Linked DNA regions of Homo sapiens: region 2 is linked to region 1. Evidence: fine-mapped QTL for protein levels in blood plasma. A gene starts in region 1. The other region holds a variant in brackets. All regions are shown on one strand. Distances are from middle to middle.

The links. PIP is the chance, under the fine-mapping model, that this variant and not a neighbour inherited with it causes the effect. Protein levels are from antibody-based Olink assays in UK Biobank. Linkage for the fine-mapping came from a reference panel and not from the study's own genotypes, which makes the PIPs less certain.
Region 2: its variant is fine-mapped to the plasma level of the COL28A1 protein (UK Biobank, PIP 0.99).

What each region holds. Positions count from the first base shown.
Region 1 is chr7:7,529,235-7,540,528 of GRCh38, forward strand. COL28A1 (collagen type XXVIII alpha 1 chain) reads right to left here and starts at 6,639. Exons shown (of 35, transcript NM_001037763.3): 1 at 6,516-6,639; 2 at 3,518-3,678; 3 at 2,114-2,670. The coding sequence starts at 3,641.
Region 2 is chr7:7,551,907-7,563,200 of GRCh38, forward strand. MIOS-DT (MIOS divergent transcript) reads right to left here. Exons shown (of 5, transcript NR_110084.1): 3 at 3,250-3,283; 4 at 253-1,016. Among named protein-coding and RNA genes, the nearest start is that of MIOS-DT, 8.5 kb to the right of the region's middle. RefSeq lists enhancers at 4,902-5,403, 5,404-5,903. The variant GA/G (reference allele first, on the strand shown) is at 6,034.

The sequences.
Region 1 (11,294 bases):
ACCAAGATCGTGCCACTGCACTCCAGCCTGGGTGACAGGAGCAAAACTCTGTCTCAAAAAAAAAAAAAAAAAGAGTCAAGTTCTGCCTTCTAGATGGTGGCAATTTGTAACATTGAAAGTTGGTATACCATTCTTTGAAGAGCCTAATAAGCACTTTGGATCCTGTAAGTGTTTGGAAAGCAGCACCTCCTTCTAAAAAGTGGTTTATTCATGGAGCTTCCATCTGAACAAACAAGCTGAAATCACAGATGCTAAACAAACAAGCTGAAGTCGCCGGATGCTAAGGAAGAGCAGTATTCAGTCATTTTCTGTTTGCCCAGGAACAGACAAACAATTTTGCTTCCAGTCTACTGCCAAGAGCCTGTGTTCTCAGTGAAGCAGGTGCTCTCAGCGAGGGTGTATCTGGTGGGAATATGAACAACCTGAGCCTACACCTGTGGCCAAACAAGGAGCTGCCTGTCCCGCATCTTCTATGGTCAGCTCTTATCCATCTTAAGGTGAAGATGAATAAGTAACAACAGCCCACTCATGACCACATCACCAGGATTCTCTCCCACACGGGCTGGAGCCCTCTGTTTTATGTTCAGTGGTGAGGACCCCTTAAGTCATGGCACAGGCAGGGCTAAGTGTTAGCCAGGAACCACTACAAATTTCCCTTTCATGCAAAAGAGCTGCTCAGAATGAGTACTTACCTTGAGCACCACAGGACTGGGCCCATCAGCTCTATCTCTGATCTAGGCATAACTCTCCCATTTACCCCGAATCCCCAAGGAAAAAAAGGCTAGAAACAATAGTAACTTTGGAGGAGGGCTGCTACCAAACTGTTTCAGAGCAGTTCTGATTGAGAAAATATTTTTTTAAAAAGCAGTTACTATTTCCTCTCTCAATATGCCTTTATAGGGTTAAGCATGCAAACTGTGAGGTCTTCACCGGCCTTAAATTTTCAACTACAAAATGGGTATAATAACATTACCTACATCATAAGATTGTGGCAAACATTGAATAAAATAAAATATATAAAGTGTTCAGGAAAATGCCTAATACAGAGAGAGTACTCAATACCTAAGAGCTATTATTTAGGTAAGAAAACCTCAGATCTTATGCTGAAAGCAACAGAGAGTAAAAAGATAAGAGTAATGTTGAGAAAAAGATCGAGGGATAAGACAAAAGGAGCAAAACAATCTCTGAAATAGAGCCTGAGTTTTCTGTGCAAGCTGTAGAAAACAGCCATATGAAACGCTCAGTACATAAAGGACACCTTTGCCTTCCTTTCTCAGGAAATCAAAGAAATCCAAGTTTTTAAGAAAATCAGTTTTTAACACTCAGCCAATCAACCAATTTATCTCTAGGCGTTTTCTCCTTGAGAAATATTGTGAAGAGGGATTTCCTTTTGATTGTGGTGCCGTGTGTTTTACAAAGCAGCAAGGAAAGGCTTTTATACACAGCTGAGCAACAAACAAAGAAAAGCTGACCAGACCTATCAAGTGGGACTCATTGATTTGATGGGAGAAACTGTTGCTTGACTGCAGGTTGCAGATGATTTTAAATTGGATGGGCTTGAGAACATCTAAGAAAGAAGGAGGTAATTTTAAAAATTGGAAGTCTATGAACTTTGAGTAGCATAATGTAACAATAGGTGAGACAGAGTCAAAAATACTCAGTCCTTTAGAAGAGTAAGAGAGAATATGTCAAGATTATGTCAAAAATACCTGTACAGATGTGGAATGGGAAAAGACCAACTTGGTACAAATATAGCCTAACACCTCAAGTTGAGCACAACCTGAATATAAGTCAGCAATGTTCATGATTGTAGGCTGTATAAACAGGAGCTTAAGGTATATGATTGGAAAATAACCCCTTCCAAAATCCTCAGCATCAGCTAGCAATAAAGTTAAAAATGCAATTCCAGGGAATTAGCCTGGAACTTTTCCAGATTGTCTGGAGTAAACTGCCAAGAAAGTGGAGTGACACTTCAGAAAGATTCTTCTTTCTGTTTTCAGTGTTAACTCTCATTTTCTCCATCTTTTTGACCCAGTATCTCTTCTTATGGGATTTACAACAAATATGTCAATATTATGATGATAACTGTATAATCAACCCATTAGGTACCTACCAGACGATCTTGAATTTTATCTACAAGGGTTGGATCACTCAACAGTAAAGTGGGTTCACTGGATGAATCCCCAGAAATCAAACGAAGTTTGGCTTCATTGACTACCGTAGAAAGTGCAATGGTGATAAATGATATTCCTGAAATTCTGGCATCTTCAGAAATACTTTGAACATCTGGATTCTTTGGATGGTCGATGCCATCAGTCATCAGCAAAACCACTTTCACACCATCCTTACGCCCTTCTCTCTTAAGTAGCCTAGTGGCATTGGAAATGGCATAATAAGAGAAGGTACCTTGCCCTATTAAATTCATAGACTTGACCTTCTGCTTAAATGTCTGCAGGTCCTTCCAGGAAGAAAAAGGTGGATCAATTTGGACAGAGCTGCTAAACTGAAGGGCTGCCAGTTTGATGTCATATTCCAAGGAGCGACCAGGAGTCAATTGGAAAATCTTGTCACTCAAGCTATCCACAAAATCTTTCTGTTTATCAAAGAGGGCAATTTTAGAACTTTCAGAGCTGTCCACGATGAAGACAATATCTATGAAACAAATGGAGCCTGAAACAGAATAAACAGGTTAGGCAAAATAATTATTCCTATCATGAAACAAATTTGCATACGGAAAGCCCTGAAGTGGTGTGTTGTATATTGTTTGGTGTTGAGAGCAGCGTGAGGAGAGAAAGAGAGACACGTTGGACAGAAGGCTTCAATTGTAAAAAACTAAATGTCTAAGTTTATGAATTATTTTCTCCTTGTAAAATCATGCAAATTAAAAATAAATAAGATATCTTTTATTCTGAGCATCTTTTCAATGTTAAACCTGCTGAAAGTGGGAGGAAATGGGAAGTCAAGATGCATCACATTTTAAAAATCCAACTAACACTGAGCATAGTTGTCTAGAAGTAAATGATACTCTAATTCTCAGGTTGTGTCATATTGGTGAGTCCCTATTTTTTTTTAAACTTTCTTGAAATCAAGGGAGAAAATGACTATACCCCCTATACCAAGAGTAAGTGGAGAAGAAACCTAACTTAAACACAACTTAAGTTTAAATCCCAGCTCTGTGTCTCAGTGGTTAATTTGCCTATGGCCTTGAGTATGCCACTCGACCTGTTAAGACCTCAATTTTTTTAATCTACACTATGAGTGGCAATCTCCGTCCTGCCTATTTTACAAGGTTACTGTGAGGCTCAAATGAGATAATAAGTGCACAAGTGCTCTTATTAAAGACTCTGATGTGCTATAAGTATGTAAGGTATATTATCATCATATAATTTTATCAAAGTAGACTATCACATGTATACATGTATATGGCTTGCTATTTATATCAAATGCTATTTAGAAAAATTCACATAAGTATTTTTAACAGGCTAAACTTAAAAACAAACAATTTTTTTTTTTTTACCCTGGACATCACTTTTCCTTGCAAGCAAATTTGATTTTGGTCCTTTCTTTCTTTGTCCGGATACTGTTTGACTCGTAAACGCTGACAAAAGCAGGAGATAGAAGACAAAATATCTGTTCCACATTATGGTAGATGGTGAAAAATCATCTGTCTTGTAGCACCTTTAATAGAAAAGTCAGTTACAAATACTTTAATAAAATATGGTGTTTGTTATTTTTAAATTTCAAGCCAGCAGGGTTGAAAACTGGCATGTGACTGGAAAAAAGAGGTTTTCATTCATATTTCTAGAAAAATATTCACATTGAGATTTTGAAAGATTTCAATCCAAATAAATCATGGCACCATGACCAAACATTTATTAGTGAATATTTCTATATATTCAAAGAACTATATTTAAGTATTCTTAATTCCGCATTGTATTTTGAGGAGCATAGAGTTGGGAGAGCCATTTAAAAACATTTCAATCCCGCTCTATATGATTACTGTGGTTCAATCACAGGGTCTGCTTTGACATTTCCAAATTCTTCAGGGGGAATTCAGATTGCTATATGGTCATTTCATTCACTTTCATTATAACTGATTCCTGACAAATCTAGTATTTTGTAGAACTGTAGACAACCACCACCCTTTCAGGCTTAATACTACACACATAACTTCAGTGAGTTCAGAGGTCAAGGTAAAAATTAAACGACCCTTCTGTTTCCATAGAACCCCATCTCTCTTTTCTACCCTAGCTTTGGAAACTTTGTCTCCACCAGGGGTTCAAAGCTGCATATGCAATGAATCAAAAGAGTATGAGAGCAAAAATAATAGATTTGCTTAAAAGCAACACTCTTCTTCCAGTGATGGCTAAAAGAACTAATGGACAGAAACGGGACTTAAAGCCAAGAAGCACCCCCTCTGAATAGCCCCGTGAAACTATTTTTCTGGGTGGATTAACAACGAAAAATCTAATTCTGTATTAAAATCCTCAATCTTCATCAGTCAATATGCCTAGCTACACACCAACTGACTCTTAAACTGACAGATTTCCCTGGGAGGAGAAGACTCATGTGTTGCTGCCTCAGTATACCCAAGAGAATGGGAACGAGAAAGCTTATTTCGAATCAATACTTAGTATGGCTTAAAAATGCTTGCCTGCTGAAACTTTATTGACTTCAGGAGTTCTGGAAAAGGAATCACATTTTCCTTCTTTGGCACCTTGCCTTTAGGGGATAAGAATCTGGGAAATCATGAGCACGATTTTTCCAGACTCTGAGTAGAGAGTGGAAATATATGCAAAGGCAGTGAGGAGTGAGATGGAGACTGACTTTTTTCATACATGCCAGATGGATAAACCCCAAAGGGAAACAAAACTGTTGGGTTAGGAGAGGACCAATGGATGGCTTCATGCCACAGTCTGCTCCTCACATAGCATCATCCAGCTGGAAGTGTATTAAAAGAACTTTGGATAGGTATGACCAAACATCTTGTGTAGCAATTGGCCAAATGCCAACTGATCCTCAGACAAGGTATACTAAAATGTAAAGACAGCTGGGTATTAAAAACAAAACAAAACCAAGAAATGTGCTAAGGAAACAGAACACACAAAGGCCATCTCTCCTCAAGTTGTCCCTTTGCTAACCAAGGAAAAAAATAAATGATGTACAACTTTAAGTCTGAAGGTTAGTGTAAAGATAAGGCTATGTGAAAAACACAGTTGTTATTGCATTTTCAAAGGGGAAAGGGAATAACACCATGGCCATGGTATTACATATGACTTTTCTCTTTGGTTGAGTTCATACCATAAGGAACATCTCAGAAGTTCTGGAAATAAGAGGCTGAGAACTGAATTCCATTGAGAACTGAGCAAGATTTTATAAGCAACATAATCAAGCAACTCTTCAAAACCCTTCATGTAAGGTTTTAGAAATACTGGCTTTAAATAAAGATTTATCTTTTCCCAAAACTAAGCACCTGCTCTTACTGTTTTCTTGGCATATAATCATGAATTTGTACCTGATCCCTGTATATATGATATTCACAAACATAACTTTTCCATTGACAATAATCCCAGTATCTCATATTTTGTTCTTATTTGCTCTGACATTGTTAATCTAGCTCTCCCAAACCAAAGTCTTGTTATTTCTTTCTGTTTCCCTATTGTAGCCAGAGGACATTTTCATACCTCTCTAGATTTGTTTCTCTAGCTTGTTAGTTCTACTGCTTCCCTGAAATATCTTTCTCGTTTATTAATTTGGCATCTTGAGAGCCCACTCATTTCTAATCACTTTTTACCATGTTTTATTTTGCCTCTGTTTTTAATAATTCTCACCTTTCTCTCTTTCTGATGTCACGTACAAGCAAAATAGGTTTCAGAGGAAACAGTGCCATTAGTTAAGTGAAAGAAATGTGAACCTCTGTGTTTACTATAGGTTACATTTTATAAATGCAGAAACAATCATAATTATTAATCAAATACCGTAGTTTTACTTTTGGCCTAAAATTTATTTGGGGTAAATATCAGGATCAGTAAATAAATCCAAGATACTTTATTTTTTATAATTTTTCAAAAATAAAATGATCTTATATCAGAGTTCACCAACTTTAGTTACAATGTTTGCATCTCAGTTTCTACACAAATAGAAAATGATTGAATAAAGACTTTATTCAAATTGACAAATTAGCCAAGTTGTAAAGTATTCTATAACTAATTCTGAATTGTAAACCCTGTTCCAAATTAAGAAAAAGATGTCCTAAAATATATTAACATCGTTGTAAAACAATTTAGAAGACTGTAAATTAAAAATCCATTTCAAAATAATTTTAAGTTTTAAATTTCTACATTTTAACAATGTTAATATTTTTCTAATAATTGATTTGAAGTAATTGCAGAGAATACAAACTATTGACAAGCTTTCTCACCTAATAATTATGTAAGTAAGTCATTTAGTCTTCCACAGTTCCTTGATGGTCCTATCTGATTTCAAGTGACTAAAATAAATCTGTTATGTCTTACCTTATAAAGTTTGTCAAACAGGAATTAAAGACTAGTTGAGTAAATGCCAACAGCAAGGACTGTGGTTGGGGGTGAAGTTAGCTATTTGATATTGTTCTGTTCTGTGGGAAATAAAAGTGTCTTTGCTTTAGGATCTTTTGCAGTCTTTTGTTCATGTTTATTCGACTAAGTCAAAGCAAGAGTGGTCAGGCATTTGGCCAGGGTGCAAGATCTGGGTGGGATCAGTAAGCAATTTAAAGGAACAGTGTCCTTTCAGAATGAGACTGTGTTTTCCAGACTATTGTAAAAACAACTTGAGAGAACTTTCTACATTTTAGGCATTGGTTGACAGCCTGCCTTTTTTTCTCATGCTATGTCCTTCTCTTTTTATTGCTACATTTCTTTGCCTGGGGGATGTGCTCTAAGATACTGGTTCTGAACATCTCTGTGAAGGAGTATAAATGACACCAGACTCAGAATCAAAGCTGTTTTTTTAAGAGAGGTAACAGTTTGATTGTTATTAAAGCTGGATGATGAGTACATAGGTGTGCATTGTTCTAGTCTTTGTATTTCTGTGATTTTTGAAATTTTTTATAATAAAAGGTATATATAATATACAGGGAAAGAGTGGTCTGAGTATAGTCATAGTTCTGCCCCTAACTTTTATGGGGGCTTCAGTTCCCCACTTATGAAATGAGAGAGTAGATTTAATCATTTATTAAGATGTGTTCGAACTGTAACATGAGAGGTTTACAGCGGTTAATATTTTGGTCTCTCTCTAGGAAAGGATCACTGTGGTTTTTCCACTCCCTGTTTCCCTATTTTCTACCTTGTGGTTATGGTCCATATTAAGTCAATGTTTATCATGTAATATATACTGCCAAGAAGCCACCTGACCCCTAGACAGCTAACAGGCAGGCTTCTCCACGGACTTCCTCTGAAATAGAGAATAGCAAGATCATCCGAGAAAGCAATACAAATGTGCATGTTACGGTTATTTAAAATGAACTTTCTTAGCCATTTTAATGTGTATGAATTTCCTTATTACAGCAATAATAGCCTCCAATTCATGGACACTTACCAGGTGCTAGGCACTGTCCTGAGTGCTTCACACACATTACCTCATTTAATCCTTCACAAGCACAACCACCTATATACAGTAAGTCCTCACTTAATGTCCTCTGTAGGTTCTGGAAACTGTGACATAAAGTGAAACAATTGATAATGAAGACAATTTTCCCAAGAGCTAATTGATATAAATAAGAGTTAAGCTCTTATGGCATATTCCTAGTCACAAAAACATCACTAAACCTCTAAATACTCAAAACACCTCTAATAATAAACATTGAAATAAATCTAAGCTATATATACATTTATGAAAGATTGATAAAAACAAGATAACTGCTTACCTGCATATTCCAGTTCAGGGTCACGGTTGACCAGATCCTGTCCCAGCAGCTGAGGATACAAGGCAGGAACCAGCCCTGGACAGGATGCAGTACTGTCAAAGGGCACTCATACACCCACCCACTCTCTCAGACAGGCACCATGTAGACACACCAATGCATCTAATGGGCAAAGCTTTGGGATGTGGGAGGAAACTCCAGGACCTGGAGAAAACCCACACAGACATGGGGAAAACATGTCAACTCCACACAGTGAGCCTGGCCCAGGAATTGAATTTTTTTTCTCATCAATGTTATAACAAAATGACATTGAACAAAATATTATTCCAGGACCCCTTGTACTTAGTAGATGTTGTAAGAATTCGAATTTTTCCAAGATGGAGGCAGAGAGAGGTTCAGTAACTTGTCCGCTGTCATACTAAAACCAGAGAATGGCAAAATGAACTTTTAACTCAGGCTGGTAAGACCTGTGAGCCTCACTTATAACAACTACTGCATCATTAAGTATCTATGCGAACGTCTGTGTTTTCACTGTCTCCTCCTCACAAAACAGGTTTCGAGGAACTGAGGAAGTTTTGTGAGGCTTTGGTAACAGAAAGAAGAAACGGTGGGTATAATGCAGAAATAACAACGGAATTTCCTAGGGAACAACCATGTATTTACCTGATAGCCTATGGGTGTTAGTCACACTTTTTACTTTTGTAAGATGAGAATCAAGAGACAAGGAAGTAGCATCTTTTCAGGTCAACTCTCTTTTTGCTGAGGCAGGTTAAAAACATGCAGAATAATAATGCCACTAAGAAGCAAACAGGTGATTCCTAGATGGGGGAAATGGACTAAAGCCCTCCTGCCTTGGAGCTGTTTTGATTAAAGTTGGTGGGAGGTTGGAGTCCAACTTAGTCATCCATTCCCTTTCATTCTCCAACATTAAATAGGGTAACTCAAACCAAAGATTTGCCACCTCTCATTCTCAAGCGTGAAAATCAGCACTAAATTAATTGGGAAGATTATGCAAAATAAAATCTTCAGTTTCATCAATCTATAAAAGACAATTAGTTTTGCACCCAGAGAAACAATGCACCACAATCTTAATCCCAACAGATGGTCTTGAATTAGTATGCTATTGGACTTACACCAGAACAAATAAGAGAGCATGGATAACCATAATGACTAGAAAAAGGCAACGTGGAGCCCATGCCCTTCTGACAGTTATTTTGTAGTAAAAGTCTTTATGGAAGAAATATAGCACACTATTTTCATTGTTACTACTATAAATAGCCCAGAGTAAGCAGTCATATTTGTGAAATAAATGATTATTAGAAGTAATTTTTAGTGTTTATCAGTCACTTGAGGTCTGTGATACAATAAATTGCTCTTCTCCAAAGCTCTGCTAGATGAAAATCTTTTTTCAACTTTTTCAAATTCTTTTAATATGCTACCATAGTAGCATCTGCATTGTGTTTATTGATTCTAGTACCAGTGCCAACATCTTAATTTCAGTGGTGATGATATTTTGGGGTCCTAGAATCATTTAAAAAGAGACAAGTCTGCTAGGACTTACATATTTCAGAGAATTGTATCTGCATGAAGTCATAGAAATACACACAAAAAAAGGCTGGTAACAAATCAAAGTTATATATTTTGACCAAGATTAAGGCATAGTATAGTTTCACAAGCTTCTCCCTATTTTAGCCACCTCCCACACTGCTGATCTAGAGTAGAAAAAAAAAAACATTACCAACTAACAAGGAAGAAATTAATGACCTTCGTACCTGATTTGAAGAAATTTGTTCTTGAAGATCCTTTCCTTTCTTTCTTTCTTTTTTTCTTTTTCTTTCTTTCTTTCTCTTTCTTCTTTTTGTCAGTAGAAAAGCTTGATATAGTAGAATTTCTAACACCTGCCCCAAAGCTCTGAAATTTCTGGGATTCATTATCCTTGGACCCAGAATATGACCTAGGCATTCTCTCAACTCCTTCATCAGTAATTAGAGGAACACTGTCTTAGTCCATTTTGTGTTGCTATAAAGGAATACCTAAGGCTGAGTAATCTATAAAGAAAAGAGGTTTATTTGGCTTACAATTCTGCAGTCTATGCAAGAAGCATGACACCAGCATCTGCTTCTGGTGAGGGCCATTGACTGCTTCTACTCATGGCAGAAGGTGAAAGGGGACCAGCGTGTGCAGATCATATGGTAAGAGGGAGCAAGAGAGCAGGGAGAGAGGTGTCAGACTCTTTTAAAGAATCAGCTCCCCCAGGAACTAATACAGAGAGAACACACTCATTACCGCAAGGATGGCATTAAGTCATTCATAAGGGATCCACCCACATGACCCAAACGTTTCCCATCAGGCCCCACTTCCAACAGTGGGGATGAAATTTCAACACGAGGTTTGGAGGGGGCAAATATGCAAACCATGGCAAACACCAAAACTGTATTGGTCTTATTTGTCAACAAAGGGAAAGATTAAAAGCATTCAAAGACAATAAGAAAATAAAAATTATCATTGGTAATAAAATACAGGATGTGGCATTGCTTAAATGTGGAACAGCGTGACTTCAGTTCCTATGCCCTCACCAAATTCTGATTGAGTTGATCCTTCCACATTCCCTCTACTATTTTTCAATTGTTACTATTATTTAATAAACTTTATGGTTTAGAGCAGTTTCGGGGTACAGCAACACGGACTCAATTATCTTTTATATCGTTTACTCCCTAAGATCTCTTGCTTCATTATTTGTCATTCAATCCCCAGCTTGAATAATTGTGTCACATTTGCAACACACAGTGCCTCATAGGCTACAGTGACAGGCTAAATTCCCGTTATACCAATCTTATGACTATTAATCTCTTTCTCTAAAATATTTTTTCAATATTAATATTTCTTCTTTCCATGTTGTTTATTCCTGACTAAATGCAATTATTTTAGACCAAAAATAAATCAAGGTGCCATCTGGAAAGTTTTACAATTTTTTTTCTAAGAAATATCTGAAAGTAGATTGATCTAGTCCTATCATAGGTTTGAATGTTCAATATTTTTCTTTAATTATTTTCTTTGGTCAATGGATAGAGCAGTTTTAACTTTTTCATGCAGAGCCTACAAATAGAGAAAGATCAGATCTATTTATACCTTGACTAAACTCTGCTTTAAATGGCAAAATATTTCTATTTTTCACTTAGTTCATTTTACTTTCAGATATTAGACAGTGTTATTCTAGATCTTGGTGAATTATTTGATAACCACTGATTGGTATTTAAACTTTTCTTGTATTGGGGACAAACAATAGTGTTAAATCTCTGAACTGGAAGGAAACTTAGAAACCACTTTTATTTAATTCTGCCATTTCACAGTTGATAAAATAGAGGACAGATATTAAGACCCACCCAAAGGTCAA
Region 2 (11,294 bases), 23 kb after region 1:
AGGGCAAGACTCATATCCTCTATCCTGACAAACTGAGAGTGAAGGTTGTTCCCCACAGGTGCACCTCTCACCTCTTGGCCATTAGAACCAGCCAGCCCCAGTACCTGAGTTTTAAGGCATGGGTCCCAAAGCAGCCCACCCTGTTCCCTACCTACCTCCCTCTTCCAAGATGCACGGATCAAGCTCTCTGTGTGGAACAGCACCTGCCCTTCACCCCCAGATATCTCATAGGGGATTAGGAGTGAGACTCACAGAAAATGAATTTCTCCGAAGAAATCACTTCCAGACTCTTCTGTTCTTTTATATCTCAGAAAGGATTGGGTTTTCAGGTTGCAAAATCTTTTCCAGCTCTGCATAGGTAGGTAGCATCTCACTGAGGAATGGAGTATTTACCACCTATTGTTCTGTTCCAGTCTAGTAGAGCTTTAGCAAAAACTACAGGCAACAAATTCTATTTTTAACATCCTGTTACACAAACAAATATGCTGAGTATGCACACAAATAAATGGTGAAAGAGGCACAAAGAAGTGAAAACAATCGTGCATGGTAGGAATATTTGAATTGTATTACATGTCCTTTAATATTGTTTTAACAGTAATATTTTTACATTTTCAATTGGAATGAAAGCATGTATGTGTTTGAATAATTTTTCATCGTGCACTCATTTTTTTGATTCCACAACTAATGAGAGAAACAGTGATGATTGTAAAATGTATCCCACCCTTAAGGAATTCACAGTAGAATTCCTTGTAGTTCCTGTAGAACTACAATAATATAATGTAATATAATAGGTAATAGTATTATAATACTCTGTGTGTGTGTGTGTGTGTGTGTGTGTGTGTGTAAAGAGATGGGGACTAAGGCAGGTACAGCAAAGTGCTAAGGAGTCCAGATGGGGATAGATGCTACTTCTACTTCTAGCTGCAGGAGACTTCAAGGAGGGGCTGGAGGGATGTATCTTGAGGGATGGATAGCATTTGATTTTTCTAAGTCTTGGAGAAGAGCATTCTGGGGGCCTGGGGGGAAGGAACAAAAGCACGTTATAAGGAAAGTGCTATGGAAAAGTAATTGGGAACAATTCAGTGGGACAGCTCTAGTATGAATTAAGAAATCAAGTGGGAAAAAATATGTTGGGCCACAGTAGGTAGGGACAACCTCATGTTGATAACCCTTTAAAAAAATTCCAGATGTTTTTATCCATGTTACATGGAGAGAAATATTCACCATTACATGTAATTTACTAATCTTTAAATAATTATCATATACTTACCTCATTTATACAACACATTTAACATCTATTAATTTAGTAAATGAGATTTCTCTTAAGCACTGTTGCAAACTGAATCCCTCTTCTCAAGTTTAAAGTAGGAGACTCTTGGAAATATTTTTCAAAGAGAGGACAAAATATGCCAATAGAACAATGATTATAAAACTGAATAGTATAAAAGTCATTAAAAGGCTAAAACTTTGGAAGTAAATTTGTGTCCACATCATGCCTGTCCTGATTCTAATTCTGGTTCTCTTTATGCTTCTGGGTTTTTTCCCTCTTTCATTGCTTCCTTGGGTTATGATTATACTTAGCCAAGAAAGTCAGGCTTAGCTTCTCAAATGAGCTGCTAATGTTCCAGGATTTAGAGCATGTGAGTCAACTCTGTTATCCATCTGAAGGTTTTCCAGTTACACATTGTAAGGTACAATGTGTACCTTACAGATGTAAGGTACATCTGAAATAGTCCAAATTACTGACTCAGGCCAATCACATATGCTTTGATTTTTCTGTGACCTAATCTTTTTCTCAAAATGACCCTGGTCCTCAATGCGTTGTCTTCATAGTCTAATAAACATCTACCTCCCAGTTCTTGTTCTGAAAATCTTTTTCTTATTTTACTACCAACAGAAAACTGTTTATATAACTGCTTTGGGTCTAATTATAAAGTTAATCTGATTCATTGAAAATACAACTTTTTTTCTCATCTCTCAACCATTATGACTTGCAACACGGACATTTAAGTCAAGTCTGAGGAGTCTGGATGTTGGTCTATAGGGAATGTTAACCAATGAAAGGCTCTAAGTAAAGGGTCGCTTCAGGTATGCTTCAGAGTAATCAATCTGGCCTCACAGAGGAAAAGGATTAGAGTAAATGAGCAGGAACCAGGGAGCCAGAGGCCAACTGGGGAGACTACCGTCTGGCTGAGGAGTAATTAAGACCTAAAGCAGGGCAATAGCTGTGGGAGCAGAGACATTGGCAGAATGTAGCCACATCATCTGTTTCAAAATCCCAAATGTGATTTACTCAAGTCTTGTTCAATGAGGGGTAGAGATCAGGCAGTAAAATGACTGTGGTTTTACTGGTACTAACGATGCCAATTTGAGAACAATTTTGATAGCTGCTACTTTAGTGACTCAGTGCCCGTTAGAAGAAACGCGCCAAATTACTAACAAAAAAAGCAATGAGCAAGGCAGGAAATGTTTGGATTGCCCATGTTGCAGTTGTCATGCTAAAACTGCTCCAGTTAATAAGGCATCTGATATGCTGCTTGAATCTTATTTGTACCTTAACTTTGTGGATATAGGATTATGATGTGTCTATTATGGAATTTAGCATCCTGATCCCTCCAATTATACTCTTAAAATAACATTCATTTTTTTCTTATTAAAAACATTTTTATATTGTAACGCATATAACAATTACATTCAAATTTAGAAAACACAGAAAAGTATAATGAAGAAAATAATGATCACTTTTAAACCTACCACACAGAGAAATCTGTTAAAACTTACCCTTTTAAAATAAGGCTAGGATCAGTATAATTATTTCATCCAGTAATATTTCATTCCTGTAACAGTAAACCGTAGTGCTTTCTCAATCTTTAAATAATTTCCTAAAACGGGTCAACAAGCTAATCCAGCCTGCCACCTGTTTCTGTAAATAAAGTTTTGTTGGCACAGAGCCATGGCTATTTGTTTATGTACTATCTATGGCTGCCTTTGCACTACAAGAGCAAAATCGAATAGTTGTGACAAAGGCAGCACAGCCTGAGGAGCTGGAAATATTTACTATCTGGCTCTTTACAAACAGTTTGCTAACTCCTGCTTTAAAAGATTATTTTAATGACAGCATATAATTAGATCAAAAGGCAGTTCCCTTGGAGAGTGCACGAGCCAGTGGTTAGAAGCACAATGCTGGCGCCAGATTGTCTGGGTTTGTATCCTAGCGCAACCATTTAAGAAATGTATGAGCTTGCCTACCTTATTTCACCTCTCTGTGCCTCAGTTTTCTCATCTGCAAAATAGGAAAAATAAAAGTGTTATCCTCATAAAGTTGTGATGAAGATGTTGTGAGCCCTGTGATGCGCCTCCAGATTTTCCTTTGGTCATTAGTGACTTCTTCCTTCAGCTGTGGGAAGTGCTGCCAGTAGACAGCCCTCAGCTGTCAGCTTTCTTTGGGGACTGCCTTACCCGAGGAAATTGCCTCACTCAAAATCATGCCTCCTCCAAGGGACAGTTCACATTCAATGACACATCCACATAAATGGAATAGTATAAAGGCCTGTGTCCCAGCCCCCAACTCAGGACAACTCTGAAGGACCAGTCCAACTCCAGAGTTACCCATGGGCTGGCAGAGGCCTTTTTTGGCATTGCATAGCTGCTCAATCTCCCCCTCTGCCTAATCTCCCTTCTTCCTCCTCCCATCCTTAGGTGCTGATCCCAACAATACTCCCTAATGAATATGCTACATCCTAGTCTCCATTTTAGAATCTGGTTCCCAGGAAACCTAACCTGAGATAGTATGTTAAATGAGTCTATATTTAAAATCTCTGACACATAGTAGATGCTATATATTTATATAATTTTTTCTTAAATAAACAAATAATCCAGTGGGAAAGAGTGAAATGGAAATACAAGTTCAAGGAGAAAAAAATAGAACAATGTAAAATTTCCTACAATTGAAGAATAACTTAATCATAAAGTTTTTGTTAAAAAAATTAATTATATAGATCAAGCAGTGGTTATTGGTTGAGACAATCCACATTGACAACTTTGAAATATTCCAGTGTTAATATTTATTTATTTTTAAAAATCTTTTTTAAAAAGGTGTACTTTTCTTTTAAATAGTATGTGTATCTATTTGTGGGATACATGAAATCTTTTGATACAGGCATGCAACATGAAATAATCCAATGCTAATCTTTAAATACAGGGGACAAACATCAATCAGATTCTCATAACATGTTCAGAGTCTACATAAACTGAATTCTGGACCTAGTTCAATACACAAGGGAAAGAGAATGACAGTGTAATTACCAATAATTAAACCAAAGGCATAATTTTCCAAATCACTTTTAGTAAGTGAATAAATTCTGACATTTTAAAAGTCTAAAGCTACATAAAATTCAAAGCAATCAAACTATTTTTCTACCTGAAATTTTTTTTGAATTTCTGGAGGGAGGGCAAGATGGCTGACTGGACACAGCCAGGTGGAACAGCTGCCACCAAGGAACCAAGATGACTGGGGCATGTCTAACAGATCTTCAGAGGGAAGTCACCTAGAGTGGATGGAGGGAAGACACAGAACCTGGGCTGAAGGGGGAAGAAGCTGGGAACCCTGCATGAGGCTACCACACACTGAGACTCGTTCCTGGCCCCAGTGACACCAGGGGAACAGGTGAATTGAACTGGCAAGGAGCAACCCGTTCTTGCCATGGGCCTCTGGAATCCCAGCAGGAGGAGACCCCCTTGACCAGCACAGACACTTGAGTTAGCAGGAAAGGCTGCTTAGAGAAGTGGTAGCGGCAGCACATCAGCTGAGGCAGAGCCTAGACGGTTTGGTGCAGGAGCATCTTTAGTGGAGCACAGCCAGGGAAGCCCATCTCCCTAGACTCAACTTGCTCCCATAAGAGACTTTAGCCCTAGGGAAACTGTAAGATCTGAACTCTGCAAGGTGATCTTGCCCTTCAAATGGGGCCAGTTCAACCTGAGCACCTCTTGGTCTGCTGGCCTCTCCCAGGGCCCCAGCCTCCCCACACCTGGTTGCAGAGCAGCCTCAGGTGCCCTGGGGGCCCACTTCACAGCTCCTGTACTGGCAGATCATGCCTGGCTGGCAGACAGCTCCAGAGGGGTGGCCCCCATGGCCATGCACCAGCCTGCCTGCTCCCTTTCTACACTGCAGTTTCTCCCAGGCTCACAGCAAGCCCCCACATTGCTTTCCCAGAGCACATGTGCATGCGCAGGTTTTGCCTTCCTTACCCACCAGTGCAGTGTGTGCAAGCTCCCTGCCCTGCTACTGCTGCAGTGAGAATGCACTCCACCCCACCTCCCCACCACCACCACCACCATTGCAGTTGGAGCCTTGGCAGGCATAGAGCCAGCCAGCCAGCCCTACTCCCACCAGTGCCCTGCCCTTGTGCCAACACTGCCCTGGGAGTGAAACTAGGCAGAGAAAACAGTGGATCCTCCCCTGCCCTGAGGGACCACCCTAGCCTGCAGCACACAGAGAATACACACAGACCTGTGCCCACCAGCACCCCACCCCCATGCTAACACCACCACCAGCCTGACTGCACAGTTGCCAGCAGCGACCCCCCGACCCCCACCCAGCGGTGCTGCCTCTGCCGCTGTGATGAATGCCCACATGGAGGCAGGCATCCCAGCACCTGTACCCTGCTGCAGCAAACAAGCATATACCTCACTATGCTTCCACTGCCACTGCTGCTGTCATGTGTGAACGAGGATGGATCCCAGTGTTACTGCACTACAAAATGCTTTGGCTAACACCACCCATTAGTGTAGTGAACAGCAATCCGAACCACCTCAGCTCCCCACCCCAACCCCCCATACAGTGGATTCCTAACCTCAAGGATCCAGACAACAAGATCAGGGCCCGATACAAGTCCCCCAGAGAGAGAACACACAGTCCAAGAGTTGAGAGCTTCAGCATTGGCCCCTTAAAATCTTCCAAAAACAAAGCCAGTTGACTGAATCCATCTTATACCACAACCAAACCCTCAAGGTCATCATACTAGATGAAAGAAA[GA/G]AAAAAACACCCAAAGGTCAGCAACCTCACAGATTGAAGAAACATCAACCCACAGAGATGAGAAAGAACCAACCCAAGAACTCTGACAACTCAAAAAACCACAGTGCCTTCTTTCCTCCAAATGACCACACCACCTCTCCAGCAAGGGTTCTGAACAAGGCTGAGATGGCTGAAATGACAGAAACAGAATTCAGAATATGGATAGGAACGAATACTAGCCTTGAATGTAAATGGCCTCAGTTCCCCAATTAAAAGGCAAAGTGGCAAGTTGGGTAAAGAAACATGATCTATTGGTATGCTGTCTTCAAGAGACCCATCTCACATGCAATGATACCCATAGGCTCAAAATTAAGAAATGGAGAAAAATCTACCAAGCAAATGGAAAACAGAAAAAAATCAGGGGTTGCAATCTCAATTTCAGACAAAACAGACTTTAAACTAACAAGGATCAAAAAAGATAAAGAAGGGGATTACATAATGGTAAAGGGTTCAATTCAACAAGAAGACCTAACTATGCTAAATATATATGCACCCAATATACAAGCACCCAGATTCATAAAGCAAGTCCATAGAGACCTTCAAAGAGATTTATACTCCCACACAATAATAATGGGAGACTTCAACATCCCACTGACTGTATTAGACAGAGCATTGAGGCAGAAAATTAACAGATATTCAGGACCTGAACTCACCAATAGATCAAATGGACCTGATGGACATCTACAGACCTCTGCATCCAAAAGCAACAGAATATATATTCTTCTCATCACCACATGGTGCATACTCTAAAATTGACCACATAATTGGACACAAAACTCTCCTCAGCAAATGCAAAAGAACTGAAATCATAACAACCACTCTCTTGGACCACAGTGCAATCAAATTAGAAATAAAGACTAAGATATTTGCTCAAAACCATACAGTTACATGGAAATTGAATAACCTACTCCTGAATGACTTTTGGGTAAATAATAAAATTAAGGCAGAAATCAAGAAGTTCTTTGAAACTAGTGAGAAGAAAGATACAATGTACCAGAATCTCTGGGACACAGCTAAGGCAGTGTTAAGAGGAAAATTTATAGCACTAAATGCCTGCATAAAAAAGTTAGAAAGATCTCAATTTAATAGCCTAACATCTACAACTAAAAGAACTAGAGAACCAAGACCAAACTGACCCCAAAGCTAACAGAAGACAAGAAATAACCAAAATCAAAGATGAACTAAAGGAGATTGAGACACAAAAAAACATTCAAAAGATCAATGAATCCAGGAGTTTGGTTTTTAAAAAAATTAACAGAATATACTACTAGCTAGACTAATAAAAATAAAAGAGAGAAGATCCAAATAAACACAATCAGAAACAATAAAAGGGGCATTACCATTGACTCCACAGAAATACAAATAACCGTCAGAGAATATTATGAACACCTCTATGTACATAAACTAGAAAATCTAAAAGAAACATAAATTCCTGGACACGTACAACCTCCCAAGACTGAGCCAGGAAGAAATTGAATCCCTGAATAGACCAATAACAAGCTCGGAAATGGAATCAGTGGCTGACTACCAATTAAAAAAATAAAAAAATAAAAGCCCAGGACCAGACAGACTCATAGATGAATTCTACCAGAGCTGGTACAATTCCTACTTGAAACTATTAAAAAACACTGAGGCAGAGGAACTCCTCTCTAACTCATTCCATGAGGCTAGCATCATCCTGATATCAAACCCTCATAGAGACACAACAAAAAAAGAAAACTTCAGGTCAATATCCTTGATGAACCTTGATGCAAAAATCCTCAACAAAATACTGGCAAACCAAATCCAGAAGAACATTGAAAAGCTTATCTACCATGATAAAATAGGTTTTATCTCTGCAATGCAAGGTTGGTTCAACATACGCAAATCAATAAATGTGATTTGTCTCATAAATGGAACTAAAGACAAAAACCACATGATTATCTCAATGGATGCAGAAAAGGCTTTCATTAAAATTCAACACTGCTTCATGTTAAAAAACTCTCAATAAACTAGGTATGGAAGGAACATACTTCAAAATAATAAGAGCCATCTATGACAAACCCACAGCCAACATGATACCGAATGGGCAAAAGCTGGAAGCACTCCCCTTGAAAATCAGCACAAGACAAGATGCCCTCCATCACCACTCCTATCCAACATAGTATTGCAAGTCCTAGCTACAGCAATCAGGCAAGAGAAAGAAAGAAAGGGCATCCAAATAGGAAGAGAAGTCAAATTATCCCTGTTTACAGATGACTTGATTCTATATGTAGAAAACCCCATAGTCTTTACACAAAAGTTCCTTCAGCTTATAAATGACTTCAGTAAAGTCTCAGGATACAGAATCAATGTACAAAAATCAATAGCATTTCTATACACCAACAACAGTCAAGCCAAGAGCCAAATCACAAACACAATCTCATTCACAATTACCAAAAAAAAAAGAATAAAATATCTTTCCTAGGAGAACTACAAAACACTGCTCAAAGAAATCAGAGATGACACAAACAAATGAAAAAAATGTTCCTTGCTCATGGATAGGAAGAATCAATATTGTTAAAATGACCATACTGCCCAAAGCAATTTAGAGATTCAATGTTATTACTATCAAACTACCAATGACATTCTTCCCAGAACTAGAAAAAAACTATTTTAAAATTCATATGGAACCAAAAAAGAGCCTGAATAGCCAAAGCACTCCTGAGCAACAAGAGCAAAGCTGAAGGCAGCATGCTACCTGACTTCAAACTATACTACAGGGCTACAGTAACCAAAACAGAAAGGTATGGGTACAAAAACAGACACATTGACAAATGGAACAGAACAGACAGCCCAAAAATATAGCTGCATACTTACAACCATCTGATCTTCAACAAAGCTGACAAAAATAAGCAATGGGGAAGGGACTCCCTATTCAATAAATGGTGCTGAGATAACTGGCTAGCTATATGCAGAAGATTGAAACTGGACCCCTTCCTTATATCATATACAAAAATTAACTCAAGGTGGATTAAAGACTTAAATGTAAAACCCAAAACCCCTGGAAGACAACCTAGGCAATACTATTCTGGACATAGGAATAGACAAAGATTTCATGACAAAGACACCAAACACAACTGCAATGAAAGCAAACATTGACAAATGAGACCTAATTCAACTAAAGAGCTTCTGTGCAGCAAAAGAAACTATCAACATAATAAACAGACAACCTGCAGAATGGGAGAAAATTTTGCAAACTATGCAACTGACGGAAGTCTAATATCCAGCGTCTATAAGGAACTTAAACAAATTTACAAGCAAAAAACAAAAACCCTATTAAAAAGTGGGCAAAGGACATAAACAGACACTTTTCCAGAGAAGACATACATGTGGCCAACAAGTATATGAAAAAAAAAAGCTCAACATTACTGATCATTAGAGAAATGCAAATCAAAACCACAACGAGGTACCATCTCACCCCAGTCAGAATGACTATTACTGAAAAGTCAAAAAATAACAGATGCTGGCAAGGTTGCAGAGAAAAAAGAATGCTTATACACTGTTAGTGAGAATATAATTTAGTTCACCCATGGTGGAAAACAGTGTGGCGACTCCTCAAAGACCTAAAAACAGAACTATCATTTGACCCAGCAATCCCATTACTGGGTATATACCCAAAAGAATATAAATCATTCTATTATAAAGACACATGCACATGTCTGTTTGTCGTGGCACTATTCACAATAACAAAGACATGGAATCAACCTAAGTGGCCATCAATGGTAGACTGGTTAAAAGAAATGTGGTAAATATACACCATGGAATACTATGCAGCCGTAAAAAAGAATGAGATCATGTCCCCTGCAGGAACATGGATGGACCTGGAGGCCATTATCCTTAGCAAACTAATGCAGGAACAAAAAACCAAATATCGCATGTTCTCATTTATAAGCGGAAGCTAAAAGATGAGAACACATGGACGCATAGAGGGAAACAACAGACATTAGGGCCTACCAGGGGTGGAGGGTGAGACAAGGGAGAGAATCAGGGAAAATAACAGGTACTAGGCTTAATCCCTGAGTAACTAAATAATCTATATAACAAACCCCCATAACATGAGTTTACCTATATGGCAAACCTGCACATGTACCCCTAAACTTAAAATAAAAACTTAAAAAATCTTCCTTGTCCTATTTAAACATAATTCTTGGTATTGAGGTAAATCTGAATTCACATGATATGCTTTGTCAAATTTTTCCAAAAACTTTTTTTTTTTTTTTTTTTTTTGGAGACAGAGTCTCACTCTGTTGCCCAGGCTGGAGTGCAGTGGCATAGTCTTGACTCACTGCAACCTCTGCCTCCCGCATTCAAGCGATTTTCCTGCCTCAGCCTCCCAAGTAGCTGGGACTACAAGTGCGCACCACCATGCCTTGCTAATTTTTGTATTTTTAATAGAGACGGGCTTTCACCATGTTGGCCAGACTAGTCCTGAACTTCTGACCTCAGGTGATCCACCTGCCTCGGCCTCTCAAAGTGCTGGGATTACAAGCATGAGCCACCACACCCAGCCCTGTTTTGCTTATAATTTAAAGATTTAAAAAATATTACAAATCATATACTTGACAACTATGTAAATTTGTTTTGACAATGTTAGGTGTAATCCCAAAATGCATGAAGAAATGCATTGATTTAAAAAATTTATTTGGGGATATTCTAGAAAAGTTTTTGAAGGCCATTATTTTAAGATATCTCTGATCTTCTGATCTTCAACCTATGTGAAAAGATTACCTAAGCCATGGCACATGTTTACAGGGCTTCATTTCAGCTTGATACCTGCCCAGCCTCCATCTAAAAGCAAAACTTGCTCTCAGGTACAGACTGATTTTGTGCATGTGGAAATAAAAAGAATTGGGATTAGCCAGTCACAGACTTCACAAAATGTTCCAGTACTGTAGTAACTGAATTGCTGCCAGGAGCAGCTGTAAATAAGAAAGAAATTCGCTGTCCTTCAACTGCAATCCTTCTGGTTTTAAAACCACAACAAAAATCCTCTCCTGGATCACCACAACATAAATGAAGAATCTTAAAAAGAACATCCTGGCCAAGCGCAGTGGCTCATGCCTGTAATCCCAGCACTTTGGGAGGATGAGGCAGGCAGATCACTTGAGGTCAGGAGTTCGAGACCAGCCTGGCCAACATGGTGAAATCCCATCTCTACTGAAAATATAAAAATTAGCCAGGCATGGTGGCGCATGCCTGT